Homo sapiens: one gene and its partners. The protein of the gene in region 2 interacts with the protein of the main gene of each other region in a biochemical or structural test. Each region holds a gene or a part of one and is shown on either strand. Other genes may lie near its edges.

What was found.
Region 1: of the proteins of RNF180 (region 2) and ACACA, one has a biochemical effect on the other in vitro, tested with the Homo sapiens proteins (one study listed by BioGRID).
Region 3: the proteins of RNF180 (region 2) and ZIC2 form a complex in vitro, tested with the Homo sapiens proteins (one study listed by BioGRID).

The regions. Positions count from the first base shown.
Region 1 is NC_000017.11:37,256,837-37,263,836, forward strand, and holds part of ACACA (acetyl-CoA carboxylase 1), read right to left. Parts: coding exon 6,849-7,000; intron 2,695-6,848; coding exon 2,524-2,694; intron 1,538-2,523; coding exon 1,376-1,537; intron 1,031-1,375; coding exon 867-1,030; intron 1-866. UniProt on the Homo sapiens protein: Cytosolic enzyme that catalyzes the carboxylation of acetyl-CoA to malonyl-CoA, the first and rate-limiting step of de novo fatty acid biosynthesis.
Region 2 is NC_000005.10:64,363,988-64,372,466, forward strand, and holds part of RNF180 (E3 ubiquitin-protein ligase RNF180), read left to right. Parts: intron 1-5,627; coding exon 5,628-5,827; 3' UTR 5,828-8,479.
Region 3 is NC_000013.11:99,977,924-99,984,783, reverse strand, and holds the start of ZIC2 (zinc finger protein ZIC 2), read right to left. Parts: upstream 3,001-6,860; 5' UTR 2,720-3,000; coding exon 1,645-2,719; intron 1-1,644. UniProt on the Homo sapiens protein: Acts as a transcriptional activator or repressor. Plays important roles in the early stage of organogenesis of the CNS.

The DNA of each region.
Region 1 (7,000 bases), on a different chromosome or scaffold from region 2:
CTATTTATTAGTAATTAATACTAATAAACACTTATTAATTACCTACTCCATGTACAGTACAAAGGTAAAGGGAATGGTATTAAATGTTTGATACAAGGCAATAAACCATTAAAAAACAGAAAAGAACTAGTTCAAGTTTCAATTTTAGATAGATATTCCAAAAGATCTAAGCTGTTAAAATTACCTCCTTCAGCCCTATGTTTTAGGCAAGCAAAAGTGCTGTTAATTTAATATTCATTGTTTATGATTAACAGAATATTATCTAACATTTATGATATAGCAGTTATATTTGCATAAGCTGTTATATACAGCATGCTAAGGTCTCTTGTATTAGCAATGTAGACAGTTTCTTTATGTCCTTTTCATAATATGAGCAGTATAATTTTATTATTTTAAATAACTATAAGAGTACATCATGGTGACTATGGCTCATAACAATAGATTGTGTACTTGAAAATTGCTAATAGATTTTAAGTCTTCTCACAAGAAAAAAATAAAATAAAAGTCTATGATTTATTTGATACCTAGTTCTTGGCCAAGAATCTACCTCCCCTCAATAACAATACTGTTCCTGTGGAAAAATAAGATACCTTTAAAGCAATCAATTTTATACATTTATCAAAAATATTTGAAAGGAAAAATACTTCAAAAGGCTCAGAACAACAAACAGAAAAACATCTGCCAAGCACTGCATAATTTAATACAACATGAATGCAAGTGTAATTAAAGATATTCAAAATTTCTTCAAAAAGGTTGTTCATATTATTACTTTGACAGCAGATGATTCCTATTCCCATGCTCACACCTTCACTTAAGATTAGCACAAATTTATTTTGTAAAATGCAATCAAATGCTATTATACTCACGAAATTGCCTCTTCTCTGTTTTCTCCCCAAGAAAAGCAGTGACCAAACTGAGAATCAGCAAATTCATGAAGTCCCCCTGCAGCAGCAACACTGAAATATCCCCAAACATTCTTATTGCTGCGGAAATTTAGCTCCTGAACTGTTCCTGAGCTGGGCTTAAAACCCTGTTAGAGAATAAAGAATGAGAGACCATATTATGTTTCGAAGGAAGAGAAGATTTATATATTCATTGTTTAAGTTCTCTGTTAATCACACACAGAAGCAGAGAAGACACACAAAAATGATAAAGGCCAAGACCCAGTGCCACAGACCCACTGAAGACTCTACAGTGACTTAAGTGGGATTAAGTAACCAATGAAGCAACAACCATTTACTTATCTGCTCTGAGAAACCTCTATGTTTCCCACTCCAGAGGAAGTCCCAAGATATTTCAGAAGTATACTTTCAGATACTATCTTAACATTAAAGTTCATTAAAAGGAGGTATAAACCTTTTAAGTGATGGGTTACCTCATCTGGATTTTCACTAGTGATCCGAGCAGCAATAACATGGCCCCTTGGACAAGGAACGTGTGCAGAATCTTCAAAATCAATGGGAGAATCACCCCAGGGAGATACCCCATACATCATACGGATATCCTTGATTCTATATAGAGGAATCCCCATGGCAATCTGAAAGGTAATAAAACACACATCTTTAATTTTTCAGTTACTTCCCTTAAAGTGTAGAGGCTATCAGATAACCTAAAATATTTTTATTTTTGGAGCCACTCCCTAAAACATTCTATTTTTATAACCTGTATTCTACAATCATCAACTCTAAGTTGCTTGAAATACAATATATCACTACAGATAAGTAGTTAGAATATTCTCCACTTCTAAAGAAGTCCCCACATTCCTAATGCAACAGACACCAGTTCCCCTGTTGTCATTTCTCCATCACGTAATAAGAATGAAAATATCCAACAGAGGAGTAAATGTTAATAGCCATCCAAAAACAGACAGCTAGAAAGTCTTAATTGTGTCATAATTATCTCTTCCATCCCTGCAAACCACTGGAGGAAGTAAGTAAATCTTTAGTCTTTAATAGGAACCCAGAAGGTGTTCTCGATGTGGGCAAATGTTAGATAAAAATAATATCAAGCCTTATCATTAACTATTACTGCTTTCCATAATATTTGTTTCCTGGGCTGAGAGAAGACAATAATATTGACAGCAAGCACTTTACAAATTATAAAAATATATGTGTGCTACCACACTCTTGTAAGGAAAAACTTCAACCACTAATCTCTGATGCAGAATTATTTCAATAAAGAACACTAGTAAAAAAACAAAAATGAGTAGGGAATAATTATAATACAAAGTTGTGAAGTTTACTATAGCTAAATAATTGAATAAAGCATACATTATTAACATTTATTTCTAAAACATGACACATTATATCAGATGTGTCTGGCTAGAAAAAATAACATTCCTATGTCTGTACTACATCAGGAAAACCAAACCACACATGCATAACACATACAGGGTGAAAGAGAAATGACCATTAGGTGTGACTCAGATAGGAGGTGCTTTTCTCTTATCACACACTGGTTAAACCCATTTTTCAGGCCTCTCTGACTTTTCTAGGCTCTGCAACCCAGATCAGGGAGACTCACCTGGAGCTGTGCTGCAGGGAGATTGACATCAGCCACCATCTCTGTACAAGGGTGCTCTACCTGCAGCCGAGGATTCAATTCCAGAAAGTAGAAGCTGCCATCCTGGCTGTACAGGTATTCCACAGTCCCAGCACTCACATAACCCACCATTTTGGCAAGTTTCACCGCACACTCAAAGAAGAGAGATAAGCAAACATAAGTATCTCACCTTATCCAACTGCTAGACCACTACAGCCTCTCACTGACTCAACTGTTCAGTGTGTATAAGAGCCATCAAAAGCTTTTAGCCACATGAGAGCACATTTCTGATTATTATACAATATCCCTGGACAAGGATGAAAAACTCAATGAAAAATCGGGAGAAAAGAGCATTTTTCACTTTGCATCAAAAGCAACCTCACCCCACCAGACATAAATGCATGCAGACAAAAAAACATGGGGACAGACTCTTGTCCAGTTTCCAGTATTTCCAATATGCTCCTCTTCTTCCTAGAAACATAGCTAACTAGTTAGAGACTAGATTTTTTTTTTTTTTTTTGAGACAGAGTCTCACTCTGTCTCCTGGGCTGGAGTCCAGTGGCACAATCTCGTGGCTCACTGCAAACTCTGCCTCCCGGGTTCAAGTGATTCTCCTGCCTCAGCCCCCCAAGTAGCTGAGATTACAGGCATGCGCCACCATGCCTGGCTAATTTTTGTATTTTTGGTAGAGATGGGGTTTCCCCATGTTGGCCAGCCTGGTCTCAAACTCCTGACCTCAAGTGATCTACTCGCCTTGGCCTACCAAAGTGCTGGGATTACAGGCGTGAGCCACCATGCCTGGCCTGGTTAGTGGCTAAGTTTTGACAAACAGGACACCAGCATTGGTAAGTGATATGCATAACTCCCAAGTCATATATATATATATATATATATATATATATATATATATATATATATATTTTTTTTTTTTTTTTTTTTGGAGATGGAGTCTCGCTTTGTCACCCACCCAGGATGGAGCACAGTGGCGCAATCTCGGCTCACTGTAACCTCCGCCTCTCGGATTCAAGTGATTCTCCTACCTCAGCCTCCTGAGTAGCTGGGATCACAGGCACATGCCACCATGTCAGGCTAATTTTTATATCTTTAGTAGAGATGGGTTTTCATCATGTTGGCCAGGCTGGTCTCGAACTCTTGATCTCAGGTGATCCGCCCACCTCAGCCTCCTAAAGTGCTGGGATTATAGGCGTGAGCCACAGCACCCAGCCCTAAGTCATATTTTGAAAAGGAAATGTCTCATTCTCTATTCCTGGCTTTTTCCTTCTTATTCATTGGAACATAGTCATGATAGTATAAGCCAACTTCAATCATGCAAATGAGAACACACTAAGAACACCAAGAAAAGAAAGGAAAAGAAAAGAAAGAAAAAGAAAAGAAAGAATGAACCTGAATCCCAAGATGGTCTCGTGGAATAAAACACTTCCACCAGCCCTGAAAAGCTCACCTCAGACTAGGATGGGAGAGAAAAATAAACTTCTATTTTTGGGGGGGTCCGCTGTGTTTTTTGGACCTTTTTGTTATAGCAGTTTAACCTGTATCCTAATCGATACAGGAATTATTAAGTGCAGGTAGAATGTTGCTGTTTAAAAATATTAAAATATGAGATGCTAGCTTAGCAAAAGGGTAGTGGGTAGCAGAGAAACAGATACTGCAGGCTGGAAAGGTGATAATCTCCTTGTTGGGATAACACAACATTTGGTAAACTGTTTCCTACAATAACTTGGGATACTGACCACACACCAACTAAACCTTAAAAAAGATGGTCTGAAAGGGTCAGAGTGTCGAAAAAGCCAACTTCTTTTGTATCCCCCCAAACAGAAAATGAGATTATCACCCTGAAGCAACTCAGTGTCAAAGATCAAACGTGCTGCTTTAGTTTCAGCTGGCCCCAAGATAGCCAATATTAAATCAAGGCAAGAGAGATAGGCTAAGCACAGAAGCCAGTAAATAATAGAAGAAAAGTTTCTATATCTAGAAGAAATCTATGAGTATGATTAATCCAACCCAAAGCTGATTGCAAGCAAATAGCCCAGAAGCTTAGTTAAGTATTTGAAGGAATTGTATTTCTAAACAAACCACAAACCTGGCCTTCAAAAGCCTGCGACTGATGATTGGGATATTTGTGCCCTCAATCCTGCACCAGCAGGAAGTGGGTTGTGAAAGTTCTGCCAAAGAAGGCATAGTCTCCAAAGCCCAACTCACAGAGAAAACTGAATGAGGAAGAACTTCCCAGAAAACAATGTCAGGTGTCTTGAAGGACAATGAACAAGGGATTTACTCCCTTATTGCACTTCTCTGGAGTGTGCAGTAGCAGAACCAGGGACAGCCAGGTCTAACTGAGGTAGTATTCTATTATATAGCAGGGAATCATTGCAATTCCTACCTAAAAAGGAGGATTTGATAACTGCTATGGACCAACGATTGCTATGTATTTTTCATTTTTCCAAATGAGAGTTATCCTGTTCCTATTCCATCATTGTATATGGGTGTATGGTGAAGGCAGGGGATATAATACTGGGTAAATAACTTGTATTTTGAGTCACTGGCCCATGAAAAGCCACAATACATATCTAATGGAGAAGAATATACATCATATAGAGATCCGGAATCACCTCCAGTAATAACCCATCCAGTTACTAGTAACTGGATGGGGCTTCAGGTTGTCTTCCTTGGACAAAGGCTATGTGTGCTCTGAAAGTAGGAAAAAGGATAAAGGGATAATAGGTAGCCAGAGGAACAGACTGAGGCACAGATTATGAAATGCCCTCCAGTGACTTTTCTCTACTTCATCATTTTAGGAATAAAATCGAAATTTTTGCTGAGCACATGGTCACCCAGTTAGTGATCACAATTCCTAACATCCTTTGTGCTAGGTATAATTGTGTAACTGAATTTTGTCCAGTGGAATGTGAGCAGAAGTGATGTATGTGACTTCAAGATCATGCTTCCATATGCTTGCCCTCCACATCCCCTGTCTCTTCCTCCCACAGGCCACAATGTGAACATAATCTTGTGTGAGTTAGCTTAATCATGAAGATGACAATGTCCAAGAGCAAAGTTTGGCAAACTTTTTTGGTAAAGAGCCAGATAGTAATTATTTTCAATTTTGTGGGCCATATAGCCTCTGTCACAACTATTCAATTCTACCATTGTAGTGATAAAGCAGCCATAAATAACACATAAATAAATAAGCATCATTGTGTTCCAACAAAATTTTATTTACAAAAACAGGCAACAGGTGAGCAATAAACCTGTTTCTGGTAACAGCTCATCTCTGAACTATGATGAAAGAGAAATAGAAACTTACACCTTGTTTAAGCCACCGTATTTTGCTTATTTATTTATTTGTTTTGAGATGGGGTCTTGCTCTGTCACCCAGGTTGGAGTGCAGTAGCATGATCAAGGCTCACTGCAGCTTTGACCTCCCAGTGTCAAGTGATCCTCCCACCTCAGCCTCCCAAGCAGCTGAGAGTACAGACGTGTGCCATGACACTCAGCTAATTTTTGTATTTTTAGTAGAGATAGGGTTTCACCATATTGCCCAGGCCGGTCTCGAATTCCAGGGCTCAAGTGATCTGTCCGCCTTAGCCTCCCAAAGTGCTAGGATTACAGGCAAGAGCCACCATGCCCGGCCAAGCCACTGTATTTTGAAGGCATCTTTATTACAGCAGTTCAAGAGTACATCCTAATATATACACAACATAGGAAATAGACCTCTAACACACATGAAATATATTTTGAAGAATCTATTTTGATGTAGAGACTGGGTTAGGACTCCAGAAAAGACTATGTTCAGGCCTCTAAACTATAGTTATTCCGAAGGCATCGCTCATGACTTTGAGAAACTACTTTCTATACAAAAAGATAGAATGTGTGAACTCTGAAGATATTTAGAGGACTTTCCAAAAACGATAATAGAGTTGATTAAATTCAGCTGAAGACTTGATGATACTCAACCCAGCAAATAAAACTACCTGATTATGAGCCTCTTAAAAAAATCAATCATAAGATTAAAAATTCCAAAACATTTCTCTTCTTTATCCCTGTATCCTGAAATGGTACGCTGATTTTTTTTAGAAAGCGTTAACTACTTTTAGAAGCTTGACATGTTCCTTGACAATTCTCTTAGTGGGAGAACAGTAGAATTTTTTTTCTCTAAGAAAAGGATATAATTTTATTAATTATTCAGAATCGTTGCTTAAAATGCCATTGTTCTCAGATTGGTACATGAACTGAATGAAAAATGTTCTATGTAAGAAAACATAAAGTAAGCCTTTTAATATATGTACCTGTTCCATGTGTTCAAATACTGCTGGAGTAGCAATAGTAGCAGGTGCTTCTTCAATAATCTTCTGATGCCTGCGTTGTACAGAGCAATCACGACCAAACAAAGAGATAGCATTGCCATATTGGTCCGCTAAGATCTGCACCTCCAGATGAC
Region 2 (8,479 bases):
GAGACTATGGGGCTATCTAGATATAGAATCATGTTGTCTGCAAACAGGGATAGTTTGACTTCCTCTCTTCCTATTTGGATGCTCTTTCTTTCTTTCTCTTGCCTGATTGCTCTGTCCAGGACTTCCAATGCTTGTCAAATAAGAGTGGTTACAGAGGGCATCCTTGTCTTATGTTTTTCAAGGGGAATGCTTCCAGCTTTTGCCGATTCAGTATGATGTTGGCTGTGGTGTTGTCATAGATGGCCCTTATTATTGAGGTGTATTCCTTCAATGCCTAGTTGGTTGAGAGTTAACATGAAACAATGTTGAATTTTATTGAAAGCCTTTTCTGCATCTATTGAGATGATGGTTATTGTCTTTAGTTCTGTTTATGTGACAAATCACATTTATTGATCCACATACATTGAACTACACTTGAATCCCAGGGATAAAGCCTACTTGTTTGTGGTGGACTCGCTTTTTGATGTGCTGATAAATTCAATTTGCCAGTATTATGTTGTGGATTTTTGCATCGATGTTTGTCAAGGACATTGGCCTGAAGTTTTATTTTTTTGTTCTTGTGTCTCTGCAAGGCTTTGCTATCAGGATGATGTTGGCCTCATAGAATGCGTTGGGAAGGAGTCTCTCCTCAATTATTTTGGAATAGTTTCAGTGGGAATGGTACCAGCATTCTTTGTATATCTTACAGAATTTGGCTGTGAATCAGTCTGGTCCTGGAATTTTTTTGGTTGATAGGCTATTACTGATTCAATTTCAGAGGTCATTATTGTTTTCTTTAGGGATTCAATTTCTTTCTGGTTCAGTCTTGGGAGGGTATATGTGTCCAGGAGTTTGTCCATTTGTTGTAGATTTTCTAGTTTGTATGCATACAAGTGTCCGTAATATTCTCTAATGGTTACTTGTATTTCTGTGGAGTCAGTGGTGTAATATCCCCTTTGTTGTTTCTGATTGTTTACTTGGATCTTCTCTTTTATTATTTACTAGTCTAGCTAGTGGCCTGTCTTAATTTTTTCAAAAAAAAAAACAGCTTTTGGTTTTGTTGATCTTTTGAATGCTTTTTGTGTCTGTCTCCTTCAGTTCAGCTTTGATATTGATTATTTCTTGTCTTCTAGCTTTGGGGTTGGTTTGCTCTTGCTTCTCTAGTTGTAATGTTAGGCTGTTAATTTCAGATCTTTCTAACTTTTTGATGTGGGTGTTTAGTGCTGTAAGTTTCCCTTTTAACTCTTCTCATTAGTTTCAAAGAGCTTCTTGATTTTTGCCTTAATTTCATTATTTGCCCAAAAGTCATTCAGAAGCAGGTTGTTTAATTTCCATGTAAATATATAGTTTTGGGACCTCTTCTTATTGGATTCTGTTTTTATTGCACTGTGGTCCAGGGGTGTGGATGTTTTGATTTCAGTTTTAATTTTCTGGGAACTGTTTTATGTTCAATTGTGTGGTCAATTTTAGAGTATATGCCATGTGGCAATGACAAGAATGTATATTCTGTTGTTTGGGGGTTGAGAGTTCTGTCCATTTGGTCAAGTGTCAAGTTCAGGTCCCGAATATCTTTGTTAATTTCCCTCCTCAGTGATCTAGTACTTTCAGTGGGGTGTTGATGGCTCCCACTATTAGTGTGAGGGAGTCTGTGTCTCTTTGAAGGTCTCTAAGAGCTTGCTTTATGAATCTGGGTGCTCTTGTGTTGGGTGCATATATATTTAGGTTAAGTATTCTTATGGAATTGAACTCTTTACCGTTATGTAATGCCCCTCTTTGTCTTTTTTTATCTTTGTTGGTTTAAAGTCTTTGTGAAACTATGATTGCAACCCCTGCTTTTTTATGCTTTCCATTTGCTTGATAGATTTTTCTCCATCCCTTTATTTTGAGCTTATAGGTGTCATTGCATGTAAGATGAGTCTCTTGAAGACAGCATACCATTGGATCTTGGTTCTTTATACAGCTTGCCAAGCTGTGCCTTTTTTTAACTGGTATTTAGCATATTTACATTCAAGGTTAATATTGATATATGTGGATTTGATCCTGTTATGTTGTTAGTTGTTTATTATGCCAACCTGTTTTTATGGTTGCTTTATAGTGTCACTGGTCTGTGAACTTAGAGTTTTTGCAGTGGGTGATAACAGTCTTTCCTTTCCATATTTAATGCATCTTTCAGGAGATCTTATAAGGCTGGTATAGTGGTGACAAATTCCCTCAGTATTTGTTTGTCTGAAAAGGATATTATTTCTCCTTTGCTTATGAAGTTTAGTTTGGCCATATATGAAATTCGTGGTTGAATTTCTTTTAAGAATGTTGAATATAGACCCCCAATCTCTTCTGGCTTGTAAGGTTTCTGCTGAGAGGTCCACTGTTAGTCTGATGGACTACACTTTGTAGGTGGTCTTTCTCTCTAGCTGCCTTTAACACTTTTTATTTCATTTCCACCCTGGAGAATGTTATGATTATGTGCCTTGGGGATAACCTTCTTACTAAATATTTTGTATTCGCTGGATTTGAATGTTGGCCTCTATAGCTAGGTTGGAGGAGTTCTCGTGGATGATCTCCTGTAATATGTTTTCCAAGTTGCTTCTCTCCCCATCTCTTTCAGTAAATGAAATACAAAATATATTTAAGCACTTCAGTAACAGTTTAGATAAAGCAGAAGAAAAAATGTCAGAACTTTAAGACAGGTCTCTTGAAATAACCCAGTCAGACAAAAATAAAGAAAAAAAGAATTTTAAAAGGATGAACAAAGCCTGTGTGACATATGGGACACCATAAAGTGATCAAATATTCAAATTTTTGGTGTCCCAGAGATGAAGTGAAAACGAAAGGGATAGGAAACATATTTAATGAAATAATAGATGAGAACTTTGCAAGGCTAGAAATTTATTTACATATCAAGATACAGGAAGCTCAGAAATCCCCAAATAGACATACTGCAAAAAGGTTTCCTCCATGGTACATATGGCCAAACTATCAAGAGTCAAAGATAGAATTTTTAGAACAGGAAAAGTATCTAGTCACTTACAAGGGAACCCCAATCAGAAAACATTGGATTTCTTAGTAGAAACCTTACAGGCCAGAGAATAGAATGACATATTCAAAGTGCTGAAGAAAAAAATGGCAGCCAAGGATATTATACCTGACAAAGTTTTCCTTCAGAATTGAAGGATAAATAATGCCTTTTCCAGACAAGGAAATGCTGATGGAATTCATCACCACCAGACTGGCTCTGTAGGAAATGCTTAGGGGAGTCCTATACCTGGAAGCAAAAGAATGATATCATGAAAACACATGAAAGTAAAACCCAAATGGTAGAACAAACATACAAGAGAAAAAATACACAGGATACCACTATAGAAAACCACCAGACTACAAAGATAAACAATAAAATATTACATATACTCCATTAAAATGTACAAATATTGTGTAGCAGTAAAAAAAGTTTTTAAATCAAATCAGATATGATAGAAAGTCAGCCAAGATCAATTAGAAATTATTTAAAAACCTATTTGAAATGTAGCTCTACAAATTCTGTTTAAATATCACTTATTTCATGTTTATCTTTTTAAATTTCATGTTTTGAACCTACGTAAGTAAATATAATTTCCAAATAAACTTAATACATAAAAAATAGGATAGTTCTTGATTAAAGAGATTTGACTTTAAATGAGCATACTAATACCCAGGTAAATGCAACCTTGCCATCAGAATAAGCAGCCTGACCTAGAGAATATTTAACATTACTCAATTGTTATAATGAGTGAACCAGAGTTTGCTTCAGGCTAGAGCTTCACAGAACTTTTATCACCATAGTTGCTAGTGAGTACCAGAATTACATTTTTCTGCCTAGTTTATTATGCTGTCCCTGTTCCCTAACATGAATAAACACAGAAATACTTAAAGTAGAAAGCAGATAAGTAAAAAGCAAAAGATTAATAGGTTATCAGTCTTCAGAGAATTGAATTTTGTTTTTTAAATGACTGAGTTTATATATTGGTCAACCAAAAAAAACAAGTTGCTATTGAGCAGGTTTTTTCTCAAGCTCTAATTAGCATGTAAATACACAAAAGAAAATTGTATTTCATGATGTAATATTTCTCAGAAATGTCATATTCATTTAGTAATAAGTAGACTATAGTTGACTTTCAAGATTTGCTTTTTCTGTACCAACAAATCCCCATGCTTTGAACTCTATGGAAATTAAAGCTAAATTTCTTTAAAGGAGTATCATTATGTCTGTCTAGTTTATTCGATGCTAAAATAAGATATTCTTCTTAGAACTTTGCTCAAAGAACTAAACTGAATGAAATTCTCAAAGTATAAGATACAAGGTTAAGTTGGTGATCAGAAGTTATAAAAGCAGTTGTAAAAATAAAACATGATAAATTTAGAAAATATTCTCTTGAAAATAATTACATTTGATCCCCACAAATTTTTGAAGAAATCAGATAGTATAGATGAGAAATTCATGACCAAAAGAGTTAAATGACTTGCCCCAGCCAAGTGGCAGACCTAGGCAAATCTCCTGACTTCATATCCTGTGTTCTTTGCTACCCTGCCTTTAATGCACTGAACTAGAAGAGGCTACTCATCTGACAAAGGGCTAATATCCAGAATCTACAATGGACTCAAACAAATTTACAAGAAAAAAACAAACAACCCCATCAAAAATGGGCAAAGGATATGAACAGACAATTCTCAAAAGAAGACATTTATGCAGCCAAAAGACACATGAAAAAATGCTCATCATCACTGGCCATCAGAGAAATGCAAATCAAAACCACAATGAGATACCATCTCACACCAGTTAGAATGGCAGTCATTAAAAAGTCAGGAAACAACAGGTGCTGGAGAGGATGTGGAGAAATAGGAACACTTTTACACTGTTGGTGGGACTGTAAACTAGTTCAACCATTGTGGAAGTCAGTGTGGCGAGTCCTCAGGGATCTGGAACTAGAAATACCATTTGACCCAGCCATCCCATTACTGGGTATATACCCAAAGAACTATAAATCATGCTGCTATAAAGACACGTGCACACGTATGTTTATTGCGGCACTATTCACAATAGCAAAGACTTGGAACCAACCCAAATGTCCAACAATGATAGATTGGATTAAGAAAATGTGGCACATATACACCATGGAATACTATGCAGCCATAAAAAATGATGAGTTCATGTCCTTTGTGGGGACATGGATGAAATAGGAAATCATCATTCTCAGTAAACTCTCGCAAGGACAAAAAACCAAACACCGCATGTTCTCACTTATAGATGGGAATCGAACAGTGAGAACACATGGACACAGGAAGGGGAACATCACACTCTGGGGACTGTTGTGGGGTGGGGCGAGTGGGAAGGGATAGCATTGGGAGACATACCTAATGCTAAATGATGAGTTAATAGGTGCAGCACACTAGCATGGCACATGTATACATATGTAACTAACCTGCACATTGTGCACATGTACCCTAAAACTTAAAGTATAATAATAATAAAAAAAAAAGAAAAAACTGTCAGGAATACAACATAACTCCGCTCAGTGAAATCAGGATATGCTTTGTTTAACTGTACTTGTGTACAGCTTCTTTTCTGAGCACTAGCTTGAATTTAATGGGCTTTAATATGTTCATACATCTTCTAGGTTTCCGCAGACATGCAGCTCCAGTTACAAGAAGGCAGTTCCCACACGGTGCACACAGGATGGATTACCTGCACTTTGAGGATGATAGCCGTGGATGGTGGTTTGACATGGATATGGTGATCATATATATTTATTCAGTGAACTGGGTCATTGGATTCATTGTTTTCTGCTTTCTTTGCTATTTTTTCTTTCCGTTTTAGGAATTTCATACCTTACTACAATTGACCAATCATAAATGATGTAAATAACAATTGCTTAAACATTTTTAAATGTGCTTTGAAGTTTTTTTAATGTTGCATTATACAAATTGTTGATGTTTATAGAAAGCCTGAGAATAATGAATTTATTTATTAATGTTTTTCATGTAACAAACTAAACTTTATTCAAGAGCTAACCTACCCAGCACTTAGCAACAATGCACTATTAATTTCATAGTTGTTCTTGGGTTAGGATTTGGGGCTCTGATTTTATAATATCACTTTAATACTTATTTTGATTGTAAAAAACTGAAGTTTTCTCTCCACTTAAAAATAGTAAAAATACAAAAAGAAATGATAATCTAGGTAGATATTATCTTTACTGATAAAATATTTAGTCAATCACCACTTATTCTCAGGCAAATTATATGTATTAAAGATAAACCATATTCTCTGGGAACTAATCTAGCAGGGTATATTCAGTTTTGGTTTCTAATTGTCACTACTTATATCCCTTTCTAGTACCAAGAAAACTGACTATTCTTTTTGTACAGATCTAATTAGTACAACATTTTAAATTATTATAAACAGAATACTAAATACAAATCATGAGACTAATCCCTACCAATAAACACTTTAGCTAGCTATAAACACTTTCCAGATTGAAGGATTAATCACCAGAAGACATGAAAAATTTACCGACTTTTAGTAGTCTAAAAGAGCAATGCATGGTCCAAAATGTAATTTAGTGATTCATTTAAGTAGGAGATGGTCAAATATATTGTAAATGTGCAATAAAGAGTGGCTTTTAATTTTTTTAATGTCTGAATAAAGTATTGTTATAAATAGGCTTATCGATTTTAGAAAGAAAACCTGACATTTTTAATTACAGTAATCATTAATTTTTTTCATTATTAAAATTTAAAAATAAGAGAACTGAATCATTAGAACATGGAATTGGGGCAGGTAACCCAATTCAAAAAAGGAAAAACTGGAGCAGAGACTTAAGCTTATTTATTCAGTTATTCTGGTGGTCTTTGTGAAACCTGGGACAAAGTTTTTATTATGAATTACTAATCCAGTATTACTACACTATGATGTCATATATCTGGTAATTCAATAAGCAAACTTTTACATAAAATAGGTGACTCTCTCGTGGCACTAAAAATACTACCACTATCCAAAAACATTGGGATCAACTGGGCTTTAACAGTTTCAATCTATGAAAAGCCAAAATTTAAGCTAATTGCTACTAACTGTATTTCAATAAAAGCACTTGACTGTTGGTATGTGATGTTCTAAGAAAACTAGAAGAATGGTACTGATTTCTATTCTAATGCTGTTCTTATTATTGTGTTTTAAATTATATCTATTACAGAAAATAGTATACACTAGACATCAAATCCAGAAATCAGAACACTAAGTACAATTTAGAAACACAGATAAATTTATACTTATAAATGGATATTTATAATTACTAATTGCTCAAAGTAAACATAAGGGAAAATATCAGCTCTCTTAAAATATATAGCAAGATTGAAAACACACATATGAGGAGTTGCATTATTTTAAGAACTTTAAATTGCAGCCATTTCCTAGGCAACTTCTGGTTTATACACTCTAGAAAATATATCTTGATTCATTCCTAAATCACAATAAAGGTTTTAATTATGTATAAACTAAATAAGTATTATTATAGATACAGATCTCTCATAGGAACAAAGTTGATTCCCAATATATATTTGTTAGGTCAGTGATACATATCAGTTTATAGATCTCAGTCTACTAAATATTTATGATACCCTTAAATAAACATGAACCTTTAAATGAAGAAAGCATAATCTGGAAAAGCATTCAAAATGGATTGAGTATATTTATCTTGACTAATAACTTGATCTGAAAATTATAGAATATTAAAAGAAGTAAATTCATAAAATTATAAATTACTAATCTTTAAAATATTCTTAAATTTTGTAAAAGTGGAGATAAAAACTGCTAAATATTAAGAAGTATAGCATTTCCTAGATCTACCAGCTTATAAGAAGCCAGATAAAATCTCAGATGGAAAGAAACCAGTTTCTTCTGGTATGTAGCACACAGTAGCCATTCAAAATAAAATACATGGATGAGCTTTAGAGTAAAACAAAAAATTATAATGCTCTTCCTAAGCATCTCTCACAGTAAAAACTCACTGTCCAATAAAGAGCCAAAGAAAGGAAAAGAAGAAAAATGTTAAAGTTAATGAAGCATAGTACTTGTCCCAAGTAATATTATTTAATAAGCTTAATTTTATGAGTTATCATTATCAATAATTTCTATTTCTACCAAGCTTAATTATGGTAAAGGTTAATTTTAAACATGTTCACACATTCTTTTTTAAAAAAATGCCCTAATTGAGGTATATTTCTGAATAGTTTCAGCAGGTTATTTTTTAATTTTAAAAAAGCAAATTCACAAACCTAGACCCATTTATTTTATACTCAGCAGAAGACAGGGAAATTTAAATTAGACAAAGTTGAAAAAGAATCAGAATTTATATTTTACAAAGCTTCTACCACTCTGAATCAACAAAATCAGGAATGGAAAAAAAAATTTCTGTATCTGCTGAATTATTAATGCCACTATAGTATTATATGCTAAATATGAAAGCAGTGC
Region 3 (6,860 bases), on a different chromosome or scaffold from region 2:
ACCGCCTTCCCGCCCGACAGTCCTGCTCATTTATTTCGTATTTTACTTTCTTCCAGGCTGACGTCCATCTCCTCAAATTTCTCAGGAATGTGGGGAAGCTCCTAGCCCTGCCTGCCTTTCTAGAGGGCTTCTTGGATTTGCAGCTTCTAACAAGTTGCTCTCGCCACGGAGAAGCTGTTATTATGACAAAATATTTGGGGCATTATCAAAATCACACAGGCTGCTGGGCTGCTGTCGGTTTCTCGCCAGGGCCAGTAAGCAATTACATTTGGAGTTGCTACGTGTTGTTTGGGGGCCGGGCTGTGGAGAGTGACTGAGCCAGTATTTTTCATCCAAAATTCTGCAAATTGAATTAACCACAATTCTAGTCTCACCTCCCGTCTTTAAAAAAATAAGTTGAAGAAAAGGTAAATATTAGAGATAAGGCAGCATCTAGTGACTGCGGAGAGGCACAAGCTGGTGGGCGAGGGTTGGGGGAGTCAGCAAAGCCTTTCAAAACCTCCCCGTTTAATTTTCTGGCTGTCTCTGCATCCTGTTGCCAGAATTCCAAATGCTTGGAGTCATTTAGAGGTGCGAGAACTCAAACGTCGTTCCACTTGGAAAGGGGACCGTTTAACGTTAAATTCCATTAGCACCTAAATTGTTTCTTAAAGACATCCGCTCAGACACAGGACTCGAAAGCGAGCATTTCATGCAAATAAATTTCTCAAATTTTAAACCTTGTTAAAAGCTTGTCTCGCACCTCGGCTCCCTCCCTTCCCGGAAGAGAACAATAGGCCGCTGGCGCATCCCCACTTCGGAGTAAATATTGACGGGGGAAGTTGCTAAAACATTTGGCTTTCTTTTAGGAAATCGTCTGGCACGATTTTGGCTGAGACCTGGTCATAGATGAATAATCTATGAGGCGGGAGGCGCGTTCTTTTGCGGCTCTCTCTTCTCACGCGATCCCCCCGCGGGGCCGCGCTGCCTGGGGCTCTAGCTGACCTGGGGCTCTAGCTGACCTGGGTCCAAGTTGGGAATCGCAAACTCTGTGGTGCCCATTAGAGAATTTCACAAACTGCTGCGAAACCACAGTAAAGCCCCCGCGACCCACCCCGAGACGGGCTTTAAAAACACTTTAAAAATGAGAAACGCATTACAGCTTCGGCTCACACCAGACTCATTTCATGGGAAACAGTCCCGGGAAGGGCGTTTGGACCCCGAGTAAAAGAAGTGGGAAAACACACAAACCACTCAGACAGACATACACTCCGAGCAGAAAAGCACATTCAGACAAGCTGGCAAAATCCTCTCTAGGCTCGCTTCCCGGGCACCGAATTAGCGAGCAGTTTTATTTTGTGCTTTCTACTTAAAACGGAAATTATTAACCGGGGCTGAGCAAACGAAGCAATTGCATGACCCAAGCATACATTTGATGTGAGGCTAATCATTCAAAACTCGATTTCCGCACATGGAAAAACCTAGCCCAATAATATTGTCATCGTCCAACAGAAACAAGCTGCTGGCTCTTTCGTACACGCAAAAACACCTCCCATCCCAGGTCCCCGGCTGGCGGTCTGCGCCCAGCGTCGGCACCCACAGCCTGAGTCTCAGCCTGTGCGTGTCTCCCCTCCGCGCCTGGTCCCTGTCCCAGCCCGCGGTTACCTGTGTGGGTCCTTTTGTGGATCTTGAGGTTCTCGGAGCGCGCGAAGACTTTGCCACAGCCCGGGAAGGGGCAGGGGAAGGGTTTCTCGCCTGTGTGCACGCGGATGTGGTTGACCAGTTTGTATTTGGCCTTGAAGGGCTTGCCCTCGCGCGGACACTCCTCCCAGAAGCAGACGTGGTTGCTCTGCTCCGGGCCGCCGACGTGCTCCACCGAGACGTGTGTCACCAGCTCGTGCATGGTGCTGAAAGTTTTGTTGCAGCTCTTCTTGGGATTGCTCAGTTGCTCGGGGTCGATCCACTTGCAGATTAGCTCCTGCTTGATGCACTGCTGCCGCATATAGCGGAAAAAGGCACCGGGGTGGTGGTGGTGGTGGTGGTGGTGGTGGGCCGCGGCTGCTGCCATGTTCATACCCATGTTCATATTCATGGGGCCGTACTGGTTGTGGAGTTGCGCCGCCGAGTAGGGGTCGGTCCGCGGGCTGGCCACCTGGCGGTATTGCTCCGAGCGCCCGAACACCTCGCCGGGCAGCCCGAGGCGCATCTGCCCGTTGAGCACATTCTGCGAGCCGTGCGGCCCGTGCTGCTCTGGCAGGCCCGGGAAGAGGAGGTGGCCCTGCGCGTCCGAGTGCGCGTGGTGCAGGCCGCCCGCGCCCGGCCCGAACAGCCCGTGCTGCCCGCCGCCCGGCGCCGAGTCCCCGAAGCCGCGGCTGCGGAACAGGAAGTCCCGGGTGGAGTTGAAGGGCGGCCCAGAGTAGGAGCCAACGTGCGCGGCGTGGGGCCCGAGCGCTGCGGCCGCAGCGGCAGCCGCAGCGGAGCCGGGGTAGGCGCCGGGGCCCTGCGACGTGAACGCCGAGCTCTGGCCCGGGGACAGCTCGTGCGCGCCCGGGTTGAGCTTGAAGGCTCCCATGTGCGCGGCGGCGGAGTCAACGAAGCCGTTCTGCGCCGCCGCCAGGCTCAGTTCACGGTCCTGCATCTCGGCGGCAGCCGCCGCCGCCGCCGCGGCGGAGTGGTGATGGTGGCGCGCGAAGCTGCCCACCCCGATGGCCGGGAACTGCGGACCCGCGTCCAGGAGCATGGCCAGCGCGCCCGCCCGCCCCTGCGAGCCCTGCGCCTCCGCGCCGCCTCGACTCCCGCTCCCGATCCGCGCGGTGCGTCCGGCGGCCACCGGGCTCCAGGCGCAGGCGGCGGTGGTGGCGGCCACTTCAGCCCTGGGAGCCGCTCTCCTGCGCCCGCCGCCTCCGCCGCCGCCTGGATCTGCCTCGGGCGGCCGGGCGCGTAGCGAAGGCGCGGAGAGGAAGAGGAGGAGGAGGCGGCGGCGCGGGAGGAGGAGGAGGAGGTGGAGGAGGAGAAGAGTCCAAAGCCAGGCGGAGAACCAAAGTGTATTAAAGGAGCTGCGGCGGGGGCGGGCGGGCAGGGCAGGGGAGGGCGGGCGGGAGGAGGGAGCCGGAGGGAGGTGTGGGGAGCCGAGAGGAGAGGGGGGCTACCGGGGGGCGAGCGCCGCGCCGCAGCCCCCACCCCTGCGCGCACCCGCGCGCGCACGCACACACTCACTCGCACGCCCAGCGGACCCGGAGCCCGGCCGCACCGAGCAGCGCCGGTAGAATGCAGTCACAACCGCGGCGGCCGTGCGCACGCCAGGCAGACGGGCGAGGAGAGGACCGAGGCGAGCTCCGCGCTCGGCACCCGGGGCCAGCGCACCAGCGGCTCCACCTGACCGCGGCGGGGGCGCCGGGGCGGCAGGCGGAGTCCAGGCGTCCTCTCCGCGGCGCTCTGCGGCGACAGCTCCCTCCCCCGCGGCCCTACTCGCGCCGCCCCGCGCGCGGCGGTTATTGTTCGGAGCCGCGGCCGCAGTGTTTAGCCCTCCTCGGCCTCGGCGCTTGGCATTGGCTGCGCCTCGCGTAGTAAACTTGCAGTGGCCACGAATTTCCCCAGATGAAGGCAGCAGCCGCGCCGCTCCCCCTTTCTTTAAGTTGTGCCGGAGGAGGAGGCGGGGGAGTAGGGGGGAGGGGGATGTGGGAGGGGAGAAAGCGAGCAGGGGGAGGGGAGGAGGGGGAGGCTGGGCTGAAAAACAATAACAACAATAAAAAAGTGATCTCTCGCTCGCCTCCTCCCTCCCGCCGGTCGGGCCTGGGCGCTGGGCCCGGAACTAGTGACCGCGCCGCGTGGACCCAGCGCAGTCCGCGACCCGAGGGAGTGTGAGGCCCAGGCGGGCTCCCAGGTCTCGGCTGCGGTGGGCTGCGTTCGCCACCGCCTCCGTTGATTTCGATGGGCGCCGCCAACGCTGCAGCGGCAGCCTTTTATTTTTTATTTTTTGTCTCCTCCTTTTCCTCTCCCCTCCCCCCGCACCCCCTAGTCTCCCGCCCCGGCCTCCCTCCCTCCCTCCAGCTCGAGGCCGGGCCCCCCCGGTCAAACCGCCCCTTTAACGGCGGCTCCCGCCCCGCCCGCCCTCCCGGCGCCGCGATTGGCCGCCGCGGCCTAGTCAGTCCCGCGCCCCCGCCCCGCTGCCGGGCCCGCCCCTCAGTCCTCGCGCTCCCTGAGCTGCTGCCGGCTCAGGCAGCCGCCGAACGTGCCCGTGGGCCCGGCCTGCCATCCTGCCGCGCTTCTCCCGAGACCTCGGCGCCGCGGCTTCTAGTCCTGGCCGACCGCGGCGCTCCCGGGAGCCGGGCGTCCAGCGTGGCTCGGACGCGGGCCCGGGCCGCGGGGTCAGGGCGCCCTCAGCCGGGTCAGGAATGGGAGGCAACCCAGCGCTCCAGTCTTTCTGCGTAGGCCACCGACTTCCCCGGGATCTGAGCAGCTCCCAGCGGACACCGAAAACCCCGGGGACGCCTGGCCCGAGCACTCCAGGCCGCTCGAGAGGTGGCTAACAGCTGGGTCGCCTGGCAGGAGGCTCTGCGCGCGGGGACATTTCAGGCCCGGGGCCTCGCCGGGAGCGCGCCACAAGGAGCGGCGGGGGGCTGGTCTGCTGCCCGCTTGGCACGCTCCCTACTTTCACCCCGCCTTTGTAAACTTGCTCTGTGGCATTGAAACCACAGGTGCAGGACCGTGGGCACAGAGAAAGCCAGGCATGCCCCTTCTTCCCACCCTCCGGACGCCCACCCAGACACCGCCTTCCCCGCCCCCCGCGGCGTCCCCGTCCGCCCCTCGGCGCGCTGAGCTCCCCACCCGCCGCTTGCGTCCTGCTCCGTTTACAGCAGTAAACACTGGGCAGCGGCCCCTGCGTGGAAGGGGGTTGTTCGGAAGTCGTTTAAAGACAGTGTCACCCTCAGGGTAAATGCCCAGAAGCCGGGCCGCGCATCCTTGGGCTGAGAAGTGTGGGAACGCCCGAGACCAAGCGAGACTCAGGCCGGAGTTTGGCTGCGGGTCAGGCTCAGGGTCTCGGGAGAAGAAGCCGTCAGACACGGCAGGGCTTAAACCTTCTAGAAAGCATATATATCCATCCACTCCTTCTCCAGGAGCAGGGAGTACCACCCGGGCGGTGGCCCAGCGGCGAGGCCGCTCCCGGCGCCGCGCCTGGCTGACCGCTGCGGACGTTTCCTGTCCCGCCGCCCAAATCTCGCGCTCCCGAGGTAACTAGAGAGGGAACGGAGGGCCCAGAGGCTGCGGAGGTGTGAAGGGACAGCCTGAGGCCAGCGCCTCGGGCGTGTTCTCCTGGCTGGCCTGGAGAACTGCTTTTATTTATAAATCTCTAGGAGTTGAAATAAAATTAAACGAAGAGAAAATAATAAATTTTTCAGAATTATGTTCTGAAATGAAATAAACAAAAACGCGGGAAGAATCCTCTAGCTCACTATGGCTGGCAGAACCCGGGCTCTCTTGCGCCGGCTCAGGCAGCCTCTCCCGGCTTAAGCGAGTCTCTGCAGGTTGGCGCTGGCCGCAGCCCCTTGCATAAGGAGCCCTGTGCCCTCCCTCCGTCCCATTCTTCCCTGTCCTGGGGGTGGGGTGGGGGTGCAAGAAGGAGGCAGGCTGTGGCATCCTGTCTGAAAGCAAGGCAGTTTGCCTGGAAGATGGAGATTCTCACCTTCCCTGAAAGGAGGAAACGTTCCCATTTCCACACCCCTCTCTCTGTGCATAAAAGGGGGCGGAGGGCACTAGCCAAACTGGCCCCCTAGACCTAAAGGGACCTGAGACATAGACGCAGAGAGAAAAGAGAACATCTTTGGCAGAAAGGCTGCCCTGCCACGTTGAATCCATTAAAAATTGCCTAGTGCAATTTTTGTACTACACACTTGTTTGCTTTATTCATCAATTTTTATGGGAATGGGAGGCGAGCACGAGAGGAGAGTATTTGGAAGGGCTTACTCCAAAAATATTTCCGAAGGAAAATGTTTTCTTGGAGATTGGTTATGAGAATAGCAGACCTGCACATGCAGAGACCTCACTTCCCTTCCTTCTTTCAGGCCATCAGACTTCGAAGTTTTCCTCCTTTCCCACTGTCTTACCCCCTCCCCAGTCCTCCCTCCCTCTCCTCTTTGACCCATTCTCTCTTTCGCTTTGATTTCGCCTTTGCTGCTCCCGCGTTTGGGGATCGCGCGGCTGGGCGCTCGCTCGCGCCGGATTCCAGGGGCCGCGCGCGGCCGGGCGGTGGGGCGGACGCCTTAATTCCCGCCGGAGACCCTACGGGTTGGGCGCTCCTGGCTATTCTTTCCCGGCTCTAGTTCTCCTCTCTCTGCAGGGCACAGAAGAGCTGAGCCAAGTTCAAAGTCACGTCGCCGTCCCTTCTCAGAAGTGCTTTATTTCTCTACAAACCGCAAAACCCCTTTACTTCATGACTTTTTTTTTTTAAGGAAGGAAAGTGAAGAGAGAGCTAGAGAGACCAAGGGGAAAAAAAAAAGCATGCAAAGGCTTTCAGAGTTACTGCCTTAAAAGTAGACTCGGGTTCCTTGGCTGAAGGAAAAAAGCGGCCAAGCGGCGTTATGCACAGTGTGAGTGAATTCAGTTTTTCAACAGGTTTCTGGAAGGGCCCGTCTGTGGCAGTGTCAGGGCCGCAGGACCCACAACTGTCTCCATCCGGCAAACAAGTCCCCTCTTTGTAAATTTCCCAAAACTATGCTTCCGAAATCTTACGGAGGCTGCGTGCGACTGGGCGGCAGGCCGGGGCTTGAGCGGATCCAGCTCAGGGCCGCGGGGGCCAGTGTTCATTTCTCGGCAAGTAGAGGGAATGGCAGCGCGATGGAGAATTGGGGTTGTCTTCAAAAACCAGAAAATCCCGCCAAACA